Homo sapiens: one gene and its partner. The protein of the gene in region 2 purifies or fractionates together with the protein of the main gene of each other region. This does not show direct contact. Each region holds a gene or a part of one and is shown on either strand. Other genes may lie near its edges.

What was found.
Region 1: the proteins of KIF9 (region 2) and MINDY3 purify together in Homo sapiens (affinity purification with mass spectrometry; one large-scale study listed by BioGRID and IntAct). This does not show direct contact.

Annotation. Positions count from the first base shown.
Region 1 is NC_000010.11:15,777,359-15,780,524, forward strand, and holds the end of MINDY3 (ubiquitin carboxyl-terminal hydrolase MINDY-3), read right to left. Parts: exon of another isoform or gene 2,491-3,166; intron 1,784-2,490; coding exon 1,634-1,783; 3' UTR 816-1,633; downstream 1-815. UniProt on the Homo sapiens protein: Hydrolase that can remove 'Lys-48'-linked conjugated ubiquitin from proteins.
Region 2 is NC_000003.12:47,276,047-47,279,878, reverse strand, and holds part of KIF9 (kinesin-like protein KIF9), read left to right. Parts: intron 1-2,499; coding exon of another isoform or gene 2,500-2,504; coding exon 2,505-2,597; intron 2,598-3,832. UniProt on the Homo sapiens protein: Essential for normal male fertility and for progressive motility of spermatozoa.

The DNA of each region.
Region 1 (3,166 bases), on a different chromosome or scaffold from region 2:
AGATTCCTGAGCAAAGAATTTGTACATTTAATCAAATGGTTGTTTTATGCCATGAAGTTTTGGGATGATTTGTTGTGTAACAATGGTAAGAGGACCATTCTATTTCATAGGCTTGATGTTTATGAGACAATCTACGATTTTGTGTAATCCTTTTGGAATTTGGGATTATTAAACCAGAGTTTTGAGAAACTAATTCTAGCATTATATATTTTATACAGATTTGGAAGTAGCCTAGACCAAAATATTGACATTTGAAAGCTGTAAGTTTAATAAGTAGTATCATACTCCTGAACAGAATGTCACCAAAAGTTATACACAAAATCTCATGCCTTTCCCTATGCTTAATTATATTGTAATTGTGTGTGTGTACGAAAGAAAACAAAACCCAAACAGAAATTCACACAGGAACTATACTATTGAAGGTAATGTTCAGTTCTGAAATGTGTAAGAGGATACTACATAATTATCTGCTTTACACGTGGCTTTACACGTGGAGGAAAAAAAGTATTAATGGCTATGTGATTTTAAATTGCTGGGCCACAAACCTATCAGAATACAGCAGATCTCTCTCTCAAGTAAACGGGCTTCTGCATCTTTGCTCACTGGTCTAGAAAGCTGCCATGTGGGTTCTCATGCTTCTGGCTGGCTGAGTTAGCAGAGCTCTTAGGTTAGCATAAGGCCTGGTCTCTTATTCGAGGTCCTGTATGACTTAGCCATTTGTAGTACTCTGTGCTCTCAGGGTTATTGGGTAGAAACATTTAGAAGTACGTATTTGTTTATTTTGAGCCACCAATGTAAAAAATGCAAGGGTACAGTTAAAGAAAAAGGTGTTTATTTAGGCCATCAACTAGGATCATAATAAATAACGTAATATACTAATGTAATAACAGATCTTCTCATGCATTTATCGTGTTTATAAATATAGAAGAAAGCTGGCTTACAGGGCTGTTGGGACAAATTTGGAAAAGTGTATTTGGCAATTACACAGTAAAAGTTAACAGTGTTGACTATCAGATTCTCTTTTCTGTCAGTTTTTAGAATACATCCCCTATACATCTGTGAATAAATGGTAATGGTCTCTTAGAGTTTCTACTTTTTGTGAACATGCCAGAGTTAAGTAAATTGTCAAAGGATCCAGGTTGACAATGTGTTATTTGTCAATATTTCTAATGAAAAACAGATCTTAGAAAAATGAACTCTTCTGCATTTCATTGTAGAGGCTGATATATTACAAGCCGGAATCATTCAAACAATAAAAAAAGTGCCTCAATGAAATAAAACCCAAAAGTAGTTTATCAATAGTAACTGTGATACTTAATATACAAATGCTGTAGTATTGCGTTTGTAATTTGGTAAGTAAATGACCAAGTATCTGAATGCAAAAGTGATGAACTTTGATGAAAGCTTAATTTTGCTAGTAAATTTCACACGAAGGGGTAAAATAGGATAATCTTTAACATAAAGCTTTAGGACAAATAATTTAAACATATCATAAACACTGAAAATGTGTTTTTAATTGTTATTTACAGTTAATCAGTGATACCAGTGTTTAGCTTAATCCAGCCAATTGCCAGTCTTGACTCCTTCTTTCAACATCTGTTATTAAGATCTTCCTTATAAATACTTAGACAAATTAATTTAGTGAAGGAGAGCGATCTGTGGTCCAGAGTAACTCAATGTATGGCCATTTGGTTTGCAGACAGCGTTTAATAGGAGTGTCATCTGTCTGTAGCATGGGATCTTCAAAACCCATCACAACTGCAGTCCCTTCTACGTACATGACCTGTTGAACAAAATAAAGCCACCAAGGTCAAGCAACAGTCTTAGCAAATTCTTATGTGGAATGAAAACAATTTTTAGAGGCTAGCAAATAAGGTATTACATAGTTTCAGATGAAACTTGACATGTAATTTTATTTTGCTAGAAATGAGAAGGAATATCTGCTTACTGATTAATGTGAAAGTAAATTTGTAAACGATATTTAATTGCTAGCTGGCCAGGTGATTTTTAAAAAATTCAAGATCATGTGAATCCTAAAACACATAGATTGTTTCTAAGAAAAAAAACATTCTTCAACGGATCTATACCATCGGAAAGAAATGCTTAATTATCATATTTACATATAATTTATACAGGTCCTACTGCTTTAATACTGAGGTTCTCAGATGCTCATGCTGCCTAATGAAACGGAGAGCTATAAAAGGAATATAGCTATTATGTTCTGAGGAACATGTGTCTCCTTCTAATTTAAGTATTGAATTTCTAGAGCTGAAACCAATTTGAATGTTTGTCAACAAAACTTGCTATTATGGTATTAAATATTCCTGAAATGCAATTCATGAGTGCATTCTGTACAGCATGAAAAATCATGGAGAAAAAAATTAAAAAGGATGTCAGGACAGAAAGAAAAGTAAAAGAGACGTTGAAAGATCAAACTAACCAGATACTGTATATGCAGTGGCAGTGATCACAGAAATATATACTGGCAGGTGAATAGCAAGAAAAATTTTATTCTGATTAATTTACAATGAAACATACTTAAAAAGTATTTTGGACATATCAACAAAAACCCTAACTCATTACCAAGGGCTCACTGTGGACATTAAGGCACTCCTTGGTGGTTAATTTCTTTTTTGTACCAAGAGAAATTCTGATGCTGTATAATTTAAAAGAAACAGATACAGACGACTGTCTTCTTCCAAAGTGTATAAAATTATTTTTACACATTCACTGGCTGATACACATGAGTGTAATTATGTTCTTCCAAAATAAAAGCCATAAGCTATTTAAGGAGCCAAAAGAAACAACTTTATTATCCTTAAATGGTAGTTGCCTCTAAAACACATTAAATATAGGAATAGAATATATTACTAGATCAGATAATCTTGTGTCATGAATCTACTCATTCCTAAGAAAGTGCTAAAGATACATTGTAACGTGAAATACATTTTTTGGCATCTTTATTTTAGTTAATATATTAGTTTCTAGTGTTGATGAAATAAATTGACATTGAAACTACAACTCGGGCTTTTCAGTCCCCAAAGCAAAACTGCCTTCTCTGAAAAGTTATACACAAAGAATATAATTCAAGTTATTAAGTTAAATACAATCGGCCCTATTTTTCACAAAGAACTTCATGTACTCATGTCATTAGAGCAGAAGTGCT
Region 2 (3,832 bases):
ATGATCCGCTGAGGTGGGCAGATCACGAGGTCAGGAGATCGAGACCATCCTGGCTAACACGGTGAAACCCCATCTCTACTAAAAATACAGAAAAATTAGCGGGGCTTGGTGGCGGGCGCCTGTAGTCCCAGCTACTCGGGAGGCTGAGGCAGGAGAATGGCGTGAACCTGGGGGGCGGAGCTTGCAGTGAGCTGAGATGGCGCCACTGCGCTCCAACCTGGGTGATAGAGCGAGACTCTGCCTCAAAAAAAAAAAATAAAATAAAATAAAATATTACCATTATTTAATGTACTTTTTAAAAAAGCAAGATAATCTAATTAAAAGTAGTCCCTGTTATACATGAGGGGTTTTTATGGTTAACATCTTAAAAGTTACTTAGATTTTTTGATTTTTTTTTTTTTTTGAGACTGAGCTTGCTCTGTCACCCAGGCTGGAGTGCAGTGGCATGACATTGGCTCACTGCAACCTCCACCCTCCAGATTCAAGCAATTCTCCTGTCTCAGCCTCCTGAGTAGCTGAGATTACAGGCGCTTGCCACTACACCCAGCTAATGTTTGTATTTTTTTTTAGTGGAAACAGGGTTTCGTCATGTTGGCCAGGCTGGTCTTGAACTCCTAACCTCAGGTAATCTGCCATCCTCAGCCTCCCAAAGTGCTGGGATTACAGGCAAGAGCCAACGCACTTGGCCCACGTTAGTTTTTTTTTTTTTTTTTTTTTTGAGATATGGTCTCACTCTGTCACCTAGGCTGGAGTGCAGTGGTATGATCAAAGCTAACTGCAGCCTCAGCTTCCCCAGGCTCAAGTGATTCTCCCACCTCAGCCTCCTGAGTAGCTGGGACTATAGGCATGCACCACCATGCTTGGTAATTTATTTATTTTATTTATTTATTCATTTATTTATTTTTTGGAGATGGAGTCCCTCTCTGTCGCCCAGGCTGAAGTGCAATGGCGCGATCTCAGCTCACTGCACCCTCCACGTCCCAGATTCAAGCGATTCTCCTGCCTCAGCCTTCTGAGTAGCTGGGATTACAGGCGTCTGCCACCACAACTAGCTAATTTTTGTATTTTTAGTAGAGATGGCATTTCACCATGTTGGCCAGGCTGGTCTTGAACTCCTGACCTCAGGTAATCCACCTGCCTCGGCCTCCCAAAGTGCTGGGATTACAGGCCTGAGCCACCGCACCTGGCTGCCTGGCTAATTTTTGTATTCTTTATAGAGATGGGTTTTCGCCATGTTGCCCAGGCTGGTTTCAAACTCCTGGCCTCAAGGGATCTGCCCACCTCGGCCTCCCAAAGTGCTAAGATTATGGTATGAGCCATTGCACCCAGCCAAAAGTTAGTTTTTTTTTAAAGCCAAGCCATGCGCCTGTAGTCTTAGCTACTTGGAAGGTTGAGATGGGAGAATCACTTGAGCTCAGAAGTTAAAGGCTAGCCTAGACAACATAAAGAAACCCTTGTCTCCAAAAATAAAACAATGAAATAAATGTTAATTTTTTAAAAAATATTGAACATCGGCTGGGTATGCCTGTAATCCCAGCACTTTGGAAGTCTAAGATAGGAGGATCACTTGAGGCTAGGAGTTCAAGACCAGCCTAGGCAACATAGTAAGACGCCATCTCTGCAAAAAAAATGTAAGAAAACTAGCCGGGCACAGTGGTACGCACCTGTAGTCCCAGCTACTGGGGAGGCTGAGGCAGGAGGATCACTTAAGCCTGGGAGGTCAAGGCTGCATTGAGCCATGATAGCACCACTGCACTCCAACCTGGGTGACAGGGTGAGACTCTGTCTCAAAAAAAAAAAATGTATGTATATATGTCCTATGTCTTCCTTTATTTATACTACTATATATATGTATATGCACACGCATACACACACACACACACACTGAAAGAAAATGATGAGAATATAGTTAGGTTTTAGGAGAGCAAGAGGAGGTAGGGGACTGTCTGTGATATTTTTTCTCAATATAGTAAGAGAAGAAAGAATATTTATTATGGACCAAATATACGTCTGGGTCATCTATTTCTGATCTAGTTAGTCTACTGGAGAAGAGGATGCTGTATCTGAAGCAAGATAAGTTAATGAAAAGAAAATTAGTTTTAATGTATTTCATAGTAAGTATTTTAGAAGAAAATATAATAAATGAAGGAAAGCATAAGTGGACTCATCATCTTAGTTGCAGAACATTTCTAGAAATGACATCTAAGATTAGGCCACTAAAGGAAGCATTCTTTTCACTTTGTATTTCAGTCTCTCTGGGGTCATTGGTGGAAAATGGCAAAGCAGTCTGTGAAGCAGAAAGTGCGTGTATTTGTTGAGCAGTGTCTTGTGGGTAGAACACTGAAATGCTGAGGGGTGAAAAGGAAAACTGGCTTTCAGGGAGAGAGGGAAAAATGGACTGCTCGTCACTCTTTTCTGATCTTCTTAATGAATGACCCCTCTCCTCTACTTGTTATTTGATAATGACTACTCAAAATTTCATTGTTCCCTTCTTTTTAGCTAGAATGGGTACTAGGAAAAAAGTTCATGCATTTGTCCGTGTCAAACCCACCGATGACTTTGCTCATGAAATGATCAGATACGGAGATGACAAAAGAGTAAGTGCGATGTGTTTGCCTTCAACTGACTGGGCCTCTCTGTCCCACCTTGCTATAGTGTGACCGTATTTCCAAGCAACCTTTGAAGGACCAAGACAGAATTGGACAGGATCCAATGGACTCTAGAGCCCATCAAATCCAAACCACCCCCTCACACACTGCTAATGAAGAAATTAATAAAATCCCATCGTTAATTGTCTTTTAATAATTTTACCTTTAATAAATTAATAAGTTTACCTTTACCCTCGTATCTGACACAGAAGAATTGACATTTGTTCACATTCATAAAGCTTTCTAATGATTGATCTGTCATTGTATAATCGCCCATGGGGTGCAGTAAGAATATCTTGAGTTCATTACTGTTTAGCTTATCAAAACAGCTGGAGAAATACTTATCAAGAGAAGTGGAAAGATATATCCGTCCCTATATCCTCACCCTGAGAATGCTTCTGAAGGCTTAGGACAGTGTAAGAGTGTTAGATATTTTCATTCAGCAAACAATTATGGGCCTACTCTGGGCAGCATTGAGACATTCTTCAAAGGAAAAATTCAAGGGCAAACTGCCCAAGCCTCGCAGGTCCTAGCGGTCAGAAAAGAGCTCACATGCAGCCCTATCAAATGTGTCCTGCTGGACATGGTTTTCAGCGAACACAGAAGCACAGAGCATTTAATGTGTGAGTGGACCAAGTCTTTCTTTCTTTCTTTTCTTTTTTTTTTTTTTTTTTTGAGACAGAGTCCCACTCTGTTGCCCAGGCTGGAGTACAGTGGCACAATCTTGGCTCACTGCAACCTCCGCCTCCCAGGTTCAAGCGATCGTCCTGCCTCAGCCCTGCTAGTAGCTGGGATTACAGGCACGTGCCACCATGCCTGGCTAATTTTTGTATTTTTAGTAGAGACGGGGTTTTGCCATGTTGGCCAGGCTGGTCTGGAACTCCTGACCTCAGGTGATCTACCTGCCACGGCCTCCCAAAGTGCTGGGATTACAGGCGTGAGCCACCATGCCCGGCCAAGTCTGTCTTTCTTCATCTTAATTTTTCTCTCTGTAGCCAGGTATAGCTCCTGCATTAGGGCAGTCAGTGTAAGATTTCAGCAAGAGTCTTTACATCAGAAGTTCTCATCAAGAAGATTGGAATCTACCACTGACCTTACCCAGTATGTCCCTAAGCCAGCTGCTACTACAATGGCTTACTATGAAGGGGCATGCATCTAAAAATCTGCTGATGACACCCTCAATT